Regions from separate parts of the Homo sapiens genome. Here regions 2, 3 and 4 are each reported to be linked to region 1. The links are microRNA targets in miRTarBase. Many come from high-throughput screens and were not tested one by one. Region 1 holds a microRNA gene; each other region holds the end of a gene's coding sequence.
What was found. The annotated mature microRNA hsa-miR-4269 reads GCAGGCACAGACAGCCCUGGC and lies in region 1 at 1,798-1,818, shown strand. An mRNA with a match to its seed (bases 2 to 7 or 8) in the 3' UTR can be bound and repressed. Matches are read on the target gene's strand: a 7mer-m8 pairs with bases 2 to 8, a 7mer-A1 pairs with bases 2 to 7 and ends in A, and an 8mer does both.

Region 2: the mRNA of CCL16 is a reported target of hsa-miR-4269. Seed matches in the 3' UTR shown: 8mer at 1,286-1,293.
Region 3: miRTarBase lists DUXA as a target of hsa-miR-4269. The part of its 3' UTR that is shown has no 7-base or 8-base seed match.
Region 4: the mRNA of HSPA4 is a reported target of hsa-miR-4269. Seed matches in the 3' UTR shown: 8mer at 1,569-1,576.

The regions. Positions count from the first base shown.
Region 1 is chr2:239,303,675-239,306,800 of GRCh38, forward strand. MIR4269 (microRNA 4269) reads left to right here and starts at 1,788; the gene lies at 1,788-1,871. All of the region lies in intron 2 of HDAC4 (histone deacetylase 4), which reads right to left.
Region 2 is chr17:35,974,843-35,977,965 of GRCh38, reverse strand. It overlaps CCL16 (C-C motif chemokine ligand 16), which reads left to right. Exons shown (of 3, transcript NM_004590.4): 3 at 235-1,467. The coding sequence ends at 400. Among named protein-coding and RNA genes, the nearest start is that of CCL16, 5.1 kb to the left of the region's middle.
Region 3 is chr19:57,151,854-57,154,979 of GRCh38, reverse strand. It overlaps DUXA (double homeobox A), which reads left to right. Exons shown (of 6, transcript NM_001012729.2): 6 at 498-959. The coding sequence ends at 568. Among named protein-coding and RNA genes, the nearest start is that of ZIM3, 8.2 kb to the right of the region's middle.
Region 4 is chr5:133,103,921-133,107,038 of GRCh38, forward strand. It overlaps HSPA4 (heat shock protein family A (Hsp70) member 4), which reads left to right. Exons shown (of 19, transcript NM_002154.4): 18 at 1-106; 19 at 313-2,529. The coding sequence ends at 516. Among named protein-coding and RNA genes, the nearest start is that of HSPA4, 53 kb to the left of the region's middle.

The sequences.
Region 1 (3,126 bases):
ATGCTGTCCATGTTTTTTGTAAAACTTGCTCACTTGTAAACAACGTCGGGCAGCAACTGCAGGCCTCACCCCTCACTCTTCAAAAGCGACTGCGACAGCTGCATCCCCCGTGCTCAACTGCAGGGCGCGGCACTCGCCTATGCTCTCATGAAGCCCCGTGCCAAGGGCTTCTCCGGGACCCCAGATACCCACCAGACCCTACAGGCCTGCCCCGTGGCCCTGGGAATGCTTGGCACCAAGGTCCCACTTCCCACCTCAGTCAAGCACCTGCCTCCCAGGCCTCACCAGTCTTCATCTCAGCCCGCCAGGTCCTCTCGAGCCCCTGGAGTGCCCTGTGAGCCACAGCTTATAAAGCAGATAGGACCAGCTCTGCATCAGACCCCTGTGTGCAGGCCCAGCTCCCCGACCCGTAAGCAGTTGACCTCAGACCAGCTGCTTAACCTCTCTGAGTCAGCTTTCTTACCTATAAATGAGGATAAAAGCAGGATATTCACAAAGCCCAGAGCTAGAATGCCTCAAGCAGTGTGAGCTCGGGGAAGAAGTCCACACAGGACACAAAGCCCAGAGCTGGGAAGGCCTCAAGCAGTGTGAGCTCGGGGGAAGGAGTCCACACAGGAGCAGTACCTGTTGCAATATTTTTATTACATGCTGGGAAGATTAAATGAGATAAGCCGTGTAAACACCAGGCACATAGAAAGCATGAAATGATACCAGGTGGTGGCATGGTGTTACTTTCATTATTAATAATTTGAAAAAGCAGATTAACAGCTCAGGCCCTGCTGAACTCAGAGCCCCCATGAGGATAGAGGCTATAACGTAACAGACATGAAACGTCCTGAAAGCTCCACGTGCAAAGTGAGTTGCTTATGCCTGCGTAAACTTCTTGTTCTTCAAAAGATATGCTGTTTTTAAAAGGGACTGACTGGTGAAAAAACCTCACACACAAGGCAGTGCCCCTTTGCCAGGTCCTGTAAACACTACCGTGTCCTGCCCTCGGCTCCTGGGGTCAGGAGCTCTCAACGAAGGTGTGACCCTTGTGCCCAGCGTGCAGACTCCAGGGGTAACTGCTTGCTTCTGAATCTCCTTAATGGAGCTTAGGAATGACACGCTATGGACGCTGACTGTCCAAGCAGAAACAAGGCCCCCTTGGGGGCTTTCTAAAGTTAGTAAATACATGTATATATAATATATATACACACACATAGGAGAACGCGAATGACTGGGCACCCAGGGTCTCTGTGGGGAGCCACATGGCCCAGCAGAGAACACAGTTAGCATCACAGAGTCCAGCCGTCCCCTCCCCACGTCAATAGGACAGTCCCGCGCTTTCTTCCAGCCGGCCTGGGGCATGTCAGGAGGCAGGGCCTGTACTGCAGGCTCTGTGTTCTTAGACAGCCTTTGCAGGGGGCAGAGGTGCCCACTGCCACATGGGCACACACAGGAGGCTCACCACGTTTCTTCAAATGCAGATGACAAAGCAGCTTGAGTAACACAAATACGGCCACACTCATCTGAGGATTGCTGCTGTGTTTTCTAACTGCATGGCCATGACCAAGCAGTCGGTTTTCATCCAGGTTGGTAGTCAGGTTTCTGAAAGCGATGGCAGTCGCCTCAGGGCTGACACGGGGAGTCTGCTTGGCACACCTTCACCCTCGTTACATTTTCTGGACAATGGTAGGGAACATTCCTTACTCCGCTGGCCTGTCAGCTTGGCTAAGCCTGGTGCAAGTGGCTCGCTGTGGGTCCGCGGCTCCATTACGGGGGAGTCTGGGTCATCTGTGAGCCCAACAGCGCCCTGCAGGCACAGACAGCCCTGGCTTCTGCCTCTTTCTTTGTGGAAGCCACTCTGTCAGGCCTGGGATGGAGGGGCAAGAGGCTTTCAAATTTTTCCTTATTGTTGTATATTTTTTAAAAAACTATTTATTTTAATGGTGAAATAAGTTCTAAAAGTTTCTGGACTTGTAGGTAAATGAATAAGAACTGAGTGTGGTTTTTAATCATGTTCACATTATTGGTGACGGTGCGGCTTAGTTTCATTTAGTGACTAAATTCTAGCCATCCCTAGACTGATGGCCACGAAACGTGTATTTCGAGTTGAAATACATTTATTTAACACACATGCACACACAATTACACGTGCACACAGGAAGCTTTAGCAAGTACTTCTCTGACCCCATTCCCTAAACACGACTGGGAACGAGGCTGCCGCTGCCCACACGGGCCCTGAATCTGACAGCATTCAAGGAGACCACGGAGGAACCGTGACAAAGAGCTGGTAGCCACCGGCATTTCAGATGAATGCAGCACCCTGGGCAAGCACAGTGTCTGCGTCTCCCCCACGCTGAAATGATTCCTAGTGTCCTAGACTGCCTGGCTTCACATGAGAAACACTCTGCTTAAGTAACTACTTCATCACTCAAGGTCCCAAAGAATGCTGCCCACCTCGGTCAGCCTTGCTTCTAGAAACCGAGGATTCTGGGTTTGGAGGCACCCCAGCTCTTCCCTGGGAAGTCATTTTCCTGAATAGATCTGACTTCCACTTATTTTCCTATCATTTCCCATCTTTTCATACATTTAGAAGGCAAAAAAAGTTCATCTTTCTAGTGATTCCAGGAGCTCCCTGGCCCATCCACAGGTGGGTGAGCTCCCACCCAGGTCCAGCAAGTCAGTGACTACAACAGAGGACACAGCCTTCCAGTGGACACGAGGACCTCAGAGGCCACCTGGCCAGGCCCCATCCACGGATGTGTCCCTGCCCAGGTGCCAGCAAGGACTGACTAATACCTGACCCAGGGCCAAGCTATCCTGTGTCCCATACTCGGCCCGTAGAGCCATCAAATCATCTGGGCCCCGACACACTTGTTTCGTACCTTTCCCGGTCATGATACAAAACATAAGCTGGAAAGGGTGCTCTTCACCTAAACAAGGTCAAACACAGGCACTACATCAGGCACCCCATGTTCCCCCTATATGCCCCCCACACTGCCCAGGTGATGGCAGAACCCAGGTCCTCGGGCGCAGAGCATCCAGGGCCCAGGGCCCACAGGGTTTTACATGGTGAAAAGGGGTAGGGGGTGAATGCTAAGGGGCGAAGGCAGGACCCCACCCCAGCCAACAACCGGGAGA
Region 2 (3,123 bases), not on the chromosome of region 1:
GGTTCATTATGAAACCCAAGCTTGAGGGTCTAGGCTGAGTGGAGAAGGGACTGAGAGAAGGGATGGTAAGGTTCTGAGGCCAGAGAGAGAGGCTGTCTGAGGGAACCCAGCCAGGACAGGCCCAGGGAAGCTTTAAAGAACATAAGGTGAGCTCCATGTGAACCAGAGGTGGGGGTGGGCACCGGACTCCTGCCCGAGTCTGCAGCCCATGACGGTCTAATTCTGCCTCTGCAGCTTCGTCACCAAGAGGAACCGAGAAGTCTGCACCAACCCCAATGACGACTGGGTCCAAGAGTACATCAAGGATCCCAACCTACCTTTGCTGCCTACCAGGAACTTGTCCACGGTTAAAATTATTACAGCAAAGAATGGTCAACCCCAGCTCCTCAACTCCCAGTGATGACCAGGCTTTAGTGGAAGCCCTTGTTTACAGAAGAGAGGGGTAAACCTATGAAAACAGGGGAAGCCTTATTAGGCTGAAACTAGCCAGTCACATTGAGAGAAGCAGAACAATGATCAAAATAAAGGAGAAGTATTTCGAATATTTTCTCAATCTTAGGAGGAAATACCAAAGTTAAGGGACGTGGGCAGAGGTACGCTCTTTTATTTTTATATTTATATTTTTATTTTTTTGAGATAGGGTCTTACTCTGTCACCCAGGCTGGAGTGCAGTGGTGTGATCTTGGCTCACTTGATCTTGGCTCACTGTAACCTCCACCTCCCAGGCTCAAGTGATCCTCCCACCCCAGCCTCCCGAGTAGCTGGGACTACAGGCTTGCGCCACCACACCTGGCTAATTTTTGTATTTTTGGTAGAGACGGGATTCTACCATGTTGCCCAGGCTGGTCTCAAACTCGTGTGCCCAAGCAATCCACCTGCCTCAGCCTTCCAAAAGTGCTGGGATTACAGGCGTGAGCCACCACATCCGGCCAGTGCACTCTTAATACACAGAAAAATATATTTCACATCCTTCTCCTGCTCTCTTTCAATTCCTCACTTCACACCAGTACACAAGCCATTCTAAATACTTAGCCAGTTTCCAGCCTTCCAGATGATCTTTGCCCTCTGGGTCTTGACCCATTAAGAGCCCCATAGAACTCTTGATTTTTCCTGTCCATCTTTATGGATTTTTCTGGATCTATATTTTCTTCAATTATTCTTTCATTTTATAATGCAACTTTTTCATAGGAAGTCCGGATGGGAATATTCACATTAATCATTTTTGCAGAGACTTTGCTAGATCCTCTCATATTTTGTCTTCCTCAGGGTGGCAGGGGTACAGAGAGTGCCTGATTGGAAAAAAAAAAAAAAGAGAGAGAGAGAGAAGAAGAAGAAGAAGAGACACAAATCTCTACCTCCCATGTTAAGCTTTGCAGGACAGGGAAAGAAAGGGTATGAGACACGGCTAGGGGTAAACTCTTAGTCCAAAACCCAAACATGCAATAAATAAAACTCCCTTATTTGACAGCTTGATTCCTAACCTCCTGCTTTTTTTTCTGCTAGGGTGAAAGAAGCTTAATCTCAGTTTTTTTCAGGGGCTTCTCCACATTTCTTGAGACTTTTGTCAAGGTTGGGGGCCATTTATATTCAATCTTCCCCTCTGTCTCCAGCTTAACAGCAGACAGCTGACTCAGCTCGCTTGGATTCAACATTCTCCCAAAACGCTGTTGTGAAGACAAAACAAAAGCCAGGTAATTAAGACCGGATGGTTAAGACAGGTAATTAAGACCGGATGGTTAAGAGAAACAAATAAATGCAGTGAAGTGTCAAGCTGAAAACGGGCCAATGAATTGGATTCTGGTAAACTGACTCATAACTGCCCCCCAGTGGCCATGTTGTTAAAACCCGAGCCTCCTCCCTTGGCCGGCGCGGTGGCTCACGCCTGTAATCCCAGCACTTTGGGAGGCCGAGGGGGGCAGATCACGAGCTCAGGAGATCGAGCCCATCCTGGCTAACACGGTGAAACCCTGTCTCTACTAAAAATACAAAAAAATTAGCCGGGCGTGGTGGCGGGCGCCTGTAGTCCCAGCTACTCGGGAGGCTGAGGCAGGAGAATGGCATGAACCCAGGAGGCGGAGCTTGCAGTGAGCCGAGTTCGTGCCACTGCACTCCAGCCTGGGCGACAGAGAGAGACTCTTGTCTCAAAAAAAAAAAAAAAAAAAAAACGAGCTGCCTCCCCAGCCCAAGCTCATCTTCCCAGGATGGCCATCTCATCTAGCTGGCCAATCAGACTCTCAGAGAGATTTGAAATTTGGACCTGAGAAACTCAGTCTGGTTGCTGCTAGAGCAGAAGTGAGTTTCTGGCAGTGTCCCAAGGAAAGAGGTCTATGAACTTCTGTCCTGAGGTCCCTGGAACTGCCTCACTTCCTGCCCCAGCTCCAGGCTGGGAGCTTCAGCTGGTCTTTCAGTTCCATGAGATGTCCCAGCATCTTTCCTTTAAAAAAATTTCTAGGCCAGGCGCGATGGCTCACACTTGTAATCCCAGTTCTTTGGGAGGCCAAGGCGGGCAGATCACTTGAGGCCAGGAGTCTTGAGACCAGCCTGGACAACATGGCCCATCTCTACTAAAAATACAAAAATTAGCTGAGCATGGTGGTGGTCGCCTGTAATCCCAACCACTCAGATGGCTGAGGCATGAGAATCGCTTGAACCCAGGAGGCAGAGGTTGCAGTGAGCTGAGATCATGCCACTACACTCCAGCCTGGGCAACAGAGCGAGACTCCATCTCAATTTAAAAAAAAAATTCCTAAAGGGCCATGGTGGCAATTTAGCACCTCAGGAATAACTTATTGGTTTAGGTCAGTTCTTGGCGGGGGATGATGGATGTATGTGTGTTAAAATAGACATAACAGGGGCTGGGCAAGGTGGCTAACGCCTGTAATCCCAGCACTTCCAGAGTCTGAGGTGGGCGGATCACTTGAGGCCAGGAGTTCGAGACCAGCCTGGGCAGCATGGCGAAACCCCACTTCTACCAAAAATACAAAAAAAAAAAAAAAATTAGCCGAGCATGGTGGCCTGGGCCTATGGTCCCAGCTGCTCAGGAGGCTGAGGCAGGAGGATCCCTTGAGCTGGGGAGTCAGCTGAAATCGTGCCACTGCACTCCAGCCTGGGTGACAGAATGAG
Region 3 (3,126 bases), not on the chromosome of region 1:
GTTGAAGGTGTGATTGAGTGAGAGGAGGAATGAATCCTCAGGTGTGGTCTGCCAGGGGCAGCGGGGGCATGGCTTTCCCAGGAGGTAGTAGGTTCCATATTGGATTGAAAAGGTGGGGGCTGGGCATGGAGGCTCACGCCTGTAATCCCAGCACTTTGGGAGGCCGAGGTGGGCGGATCACGAGGTCAGGAGATCGAGACCATCCTGGCTAACACGGTGAAACCCCGTCTCTACTAAAAATACAAACAATTAGCCGAGCGTGGTGGCGGGCGCCTGTAGTCCCAGCTACTCGGGAGGCTGAGGCAGGAGCATGGCGTGAACCCGGGAGGCGGAGCTTGCAGTGAGCCGAGATCGCGCCACCGCACTCCAGCCTGGGCGACAAAGTGAGACTCCGTCTAAAAAAAAAAAAAAAGAAAAGGTGGGAAAAGGCTGACGTCCATGTTTGTGAATATAAGCTGATCTCTTACATTCTTTCCTCTATCTTTTTTCCTCCTTAGGTGCAGAAGATACACAAAATGGCACCAACTTCACTAGTGACTCTCATTTCTCTGGAGCCAGAACGTGGTGAACACAGTCAAATTCAGTGTACTTGATAATATCAACTGGACCCCAAATCTGTCTCACGGTCTTCCTGGGAGTCTATCCTTCTGCTGAAACTGCAAGCTAAGCCTTCTGAAGATGGTAAAGGACTTGGCCAGATGTGGTGGGTCACACTTGTAATCCCACTACTTTGGGAGGCCAAGGCAGGAAGATTGCTTGAGCTCAGGAGTTTGAAACCAGCCTGGACAACATATAGCAAGACTCTGCCTCTATTATAAAAAAACAAAATAAATGAAAAGGACTGTAGGAGGCAGAGACGGGTACAGGGGGTACCACACTACCCTGTTGACACAGCCTAGATCCAGAGTTCAGAAGACCTTGAGACAATGAAAATAAACTTGGTAATAATCTTTTTTCAATCATCACAGTAATTATTGATTTGTACAAAAATCACTTGACGTCATAACCTTAAAGTGACACTGCTCTGCCTATGGAGTAGCCGTTCTTTTATTCCTTTACTTTCTTAACAAATTTGCTTTCACTTAAAAAAAAACCTTTAAGTTCAAGGAAGAACAAGATATATACTTCATCTCAAAAGAATCTACTCACACACACTTATTAATTACAAAAGGAAAATCAGTAATTTTGCAGCAGAGAAATATGGCCAACTCCACCTTAACCAAGTGGCTGAAAGTCACTGCACCAGTAATGGCACAAACCAATGTGAGATGCTTCCTGATATGATACAGTAAGAAGGCCACAGTCTCTTCTGCGTGTTAGTGACAAAAAGTGGGTAAGCTGAAACTAATAATTAGGCAATGTCAAGTGAACACAAATTCAGGATGACAGACTGCAAAGTAACATCCATGTATTCTTCAACAATGGATTGATCAGGGCTACTCAGAAGGCTGAGGCGGAAGGATTGCTTGAGGCCAGGAGTTCCAGATCAACCTGGGCAACATGATGAGACCCCATCTCTACAAACAATTTTTTAAAAATGAGCCAGGTGTGGTAGTGTGCATCTGTAGTCTCAGCAACTTAGGAGCCTGAGGCAGGAGAATGGTTTGAACACAGGGATGGTGAGGCTGCAGTGAGCTATGATCGTGCTACTGCACTCCAGCCTGGGCGACACAGCAAGTTCTTGTTTCCAAACAACAACAAAACAAAACAAAAAAAAAACCGGATAGAATAATGACCAAAAAATGGAGAAAAAGTAGGCTGACTCAGGAAACACTTAGAAAGTACAGCCATACCTCAAAGATATTGTGGATTGGGTTGCAGCCCACCACAATAAAGCAAATATTGCTATAAAGTGAGTCACAAAAATGGTTTTGTTTCCTTGTGAATATAAAGTTACATTGGCTGGGTGTGGTGGCTCATGCCTATAATCCCAGTACTTTAGGACATGGAAGGGGGAGGATCACTTGAGACCAGGAGTTGTGAGGTCAACCTGGGCAATATAGGGAGATCCTGTCTCTATTTAAAAAAAGAAGTTATGGCCGGGCGCGGTGGCTCATGCCTGTAATACCAGCACTTTGGGAGGCGGAGGCGGGCAGATCGCGAGGTCAGGAGATCGAGACCATCCTGGCTAACGTGGAGAAACCCCGTCTCTACTAAAAAAAAAAATTACAAAAAATTAGCCGGGCATGGTAGCAGGTGCCTGTAGTCCCAGCTACTCGGGAGGCTGAGGCAGGAGAATGGCGTGAACCTGGGAGGCGGAGCTTGCAGTGAGCCAAGATCGCGCCACTGCACTCCAGCCTGGGTGGCCGAGCGAGACTCCCTCTCAAAAAAAAAAGTTACATTTACACTACACTACACTGTAGTCTAATAAAGTGTAAAATGGTGTTATGTCTAGGAAACAAGGCACATACTTTAATTTTAAAACACTTGATGCTGGCTGGGTGGGGTGACTCACGCCTGTAATCCCAGCACTTTGGGAGGCCGAGGCAGGTGGATTGCTTGAGCTCAGCCTGGACAACATGGCAAAACCCCATCTATTAAAAGAAAAAATACCTGATGCCCTTATTTGAAGCTCCATTATTTTTTAAAAAGAAATTATATAAAAATACTTTATTGCTAAAAATACTAATAATGATCTTAGCCTTCAGGGAGTCGTAATCTTTTTTGCTGGTGAGGAGTCTTGCCTCAATGTCATTGGCTGCTGGCTGATAAGGGTGGTGGTTGCTAAATATTGAAGTGGTTGTAACAATTTGTTAAAACAACAATGAAATTTACCACATTAACTGACGCTTCCTTCCACGAAAGATTTCTCTGGAACATGAGATGTTGTTTGATAGCATTTTACCCATAATAGAACTTCTTTCAAAATTGGAGCCAATCCTCTCAAACCCTGCCACTGCTTTCTTAACTACGTGCGTCAATATTGTAAATCCTCTGTTGTAGTTTAAACAGCGTTCACAGCATCTTCACCAGGAGTAAATTCCACCTCATGAAACCACTTTCGAGGCTCCTTCTGGACTGTGGCGTTCTTTCCAGGCTACCTTGTGGCAATTTGAGAGTCTGGCATCGTTTTCCGCCAGGACCCAAAGATCCAGGAGGCACTTGTGACTAGCCTGCCAATGGACC
Region 4 (3,118 bases), not on the chromosome of region 1:
AAATGAAGCAATGGAGTGGATGAATAACAAGCTAAATCTGCAGAACAAGCAGAGTTTGACCATGGATCCAGTTGTCAAGTCAAAAGAGATTGAAGCTAAAATTAAGGTAATTTAAGACTTTTTTTTAATAGTCTTTTCTTGACAGCCTTATTATTAATAGTCCTCAAGTGACACTTAGGAGGGAACTTTATTATAGTGTTTTAGCTTCTAGGTTGAGGATTGGGTGGTGGGAGAGGGCGGATTTGGGTTTAGCATGGCTTGTAAAATTTGTTAATTTTATAAGAAACCAGTTTTCTGTCTTACCCATTCCAGGAGCTGACAAGTACTTGTAGCCCTATAATTTCAAAGCCCAAACCCAAAGTGGAACCTCCAAAAGAGGAACAAAAAAATGCAGAGCAGAATGGACCAGTGGATGGACAAGGAGACAACCCAGGCCCCCAGGCTGCTGAGCAGGGTACAGACACAGCTGTGCCTTCGGATTCAGACAAGAAGCTTCCTGAAATGGACATTGATTGATTCCAACACTTGTTTCTATTAAAACAGACTATTATAAAGCTTTAAGTTGTCAACTTTGTTCTAAATATCAACTAGCGCAAGTGAATACTGAAGATTTCTTAGTCAGTTTTTAGGGGATTTTCGGGGAGGGGAAATAGGTAATGTATGGAGCATTTTCACTTCTAAATAGTTAGATACAGAAATTAAGTGCATTGTATCTTTTTCATAATGGTACTATTTAGAAGCCCAGTTAGTCTTACTGAGCTTATGCTTCACTCCTTTATGTTTAACCATGTGTCTACAAGAATAAGTTTGTTTTGGAAAGTTGAGCTATAGCTACAGCTCTAGCTATCCAGCAGACTTTTCATTATGACTTACATGGCAGGAGCTCTAATTATGCTTTAAAAATCTGTTGTGGAGATTGCTTTAAATGCTCCCTGCCTGGTGTGGGGATGGGGTCCCCCTCTTTGTGAGGGCTGGAGCATGGCACGGCATGGATTAACACGGCAGAGGAACAAAGGTGTGCTCTGAGCTTCTTCATATTTCACCTTCACCCTCACCTGTGTTCTCTTCCCTCTCTCCCAATAAAAGGGCTCCCATTATAAATGCCATGTACTTCTCTTGGGAAAATAGACCCCCTTGCCTAGAGTAAGTTGTTAACTGAGGGCTTTAAACCTGGAGGCTCTTCCTGAAAGTATGTTCATGAATACCCCAAGCATCAAGGTCTAAATAATTTTCAGAAGATTAGAATTGGGTAGATATACTGTTGGATATAGCCATGGTAAATTTAACTGAGGAATTAAATCCTTGTTAATTTTGGTGTAAAGATTTGTATCCTGGCCTGTTTATTCAGGTGGGAGATGTTCTGTATAATTTTGAGGTATAGCTTGAACTCCTAGAACAAGAGTTAAAAGTTCTTTTTAGCTCATTCACAATCACTTGTGTGTTAAGTGTTAATATCTGTCATGAACCTGCCAATTTGTACGTGTTAAGCAGCTGACAGATGATGCAAAAAAAACTAAGATACACTGGATTGTACTGGATGAGTCTGAAATTAGTGTTAAAGAAGTGTGGTGCCTGATGTTATAACAACACCTCATTCTTAACTGTGTGGCCAATGTCAGGTATACCAAAGCATTCCTCTGACTGCTTTTTGGGGCAGTGTTGACAGGAGTGAGGCATTTTGGAAACTCCAAGGGAAGCCTGTGTTTGAGGCCAGAGTTGGTACCTGCTTTAAGAAACTGTTACAGGGCTTGTTGGTAATGTTTTGAATCTTTGTAAAAATTGATATTCTGTATAACAGAGTGCCTCTCTGTTACTTTTGGCCTATGTTGTTAGAAATAAGATGCTATCTTGCATAGTTAGAATTAAGCGTTTGTCCATCTCTAGATAACATTGAAAAGTTTGAGTGTTACAGGCTCTAAAGTGCAATGGAGAACAATTGCTTAGGAGGAGGAAGGGGAAAGTATACTTATGTTGGTGTGTAAGCATGCATGGAGGCCTCGAGGCACCACAACAAGGCCAGGTTCTTAGCACATCCTCTGTTCTCTACCTGTCATGCTTCAAGAGTTCCAGCTGGCCTGCTGTGAAGCCAGTAGCTATTTTAAAAGTGCTGGCTGCAGGATTAAGCCAACCCTTTACAACTGGCCCAGACCGTAATGGCCATTTCTTCTTAAAAAAAAAAAAATTTTTTTTTTTTTTTTTTTTTTTTTTTTTTTTTTTTTTGGTGTGTGTGTGTGTGTGTGTGGGGAAGGGTGTGGGTGCTGGGATGGGGGTGAATTTCAAGTTGAAACACGATGATGTGGTCTGCTTGCTCTCTGCTTAGACAGGCTTTAAGACCAATTGGATTTTCATGGAGGCCAGGACAGAGAGTGGTAATTGATGGCTTGTGTACAGACAAGCATTTATCCAGGTTGCGTTATCCAAACTGATTTGTTAAAGCTCCAGGTCACGTTCTTACACTAAGAAAATCATTCAGTAAACATGAGACAAGTTTAGGAAAAACTAATAAAATAAACCTGTCTTAAACTTGAATGGTTTCCTTAATTCCATAATGAAGGCTGCTGGGTGTGTGTGTGGGGGTGTGTGTGTATGTGTGTGTGTCTGTGTGTATGTGTGTGTGGGGTGGGGGCGGGGGGTGTGTTTTCAATAAAAATGTTCTCTAGGAGTAGGAACCCTCTGAGCTAAATTTCACTTAACATCCGTTGAAGACTTCCAGTCTGAAGAGTGACAGCTGAAGCACACTGCCTACTTTGTGAGAAAATGTTGCCTAATTTTTCTGTACTCAAACTCTCCAGTTGAGTCTTGGCCCAGTTCCTTTGGTGTTAGGAATCCTTGTCTTGCTCCTGTGACTGGGCCTTACTTTGAGGGTTTTGTTAGCAGAAGGCGGGGGTTATGGCATAAAGGTAAGTGCTAGGACTTACACCTGGCCAAAGAACAGCGCGGTCCAGAGTGTGCTAGAATAGTTGGCGCCACTGGATGTGTGGTGTGGCTGCGTGGAATGTGTGTTGGTGTATGTATGTGGTGGTGATGGGTGTTTAAAGGGCACTAAGCCAGTGAAAAAGACCTTAACTGGATAAGGCATGGGTCTAGACGAGGAGGGGTCAGGGGTCTTGTTCCCTGG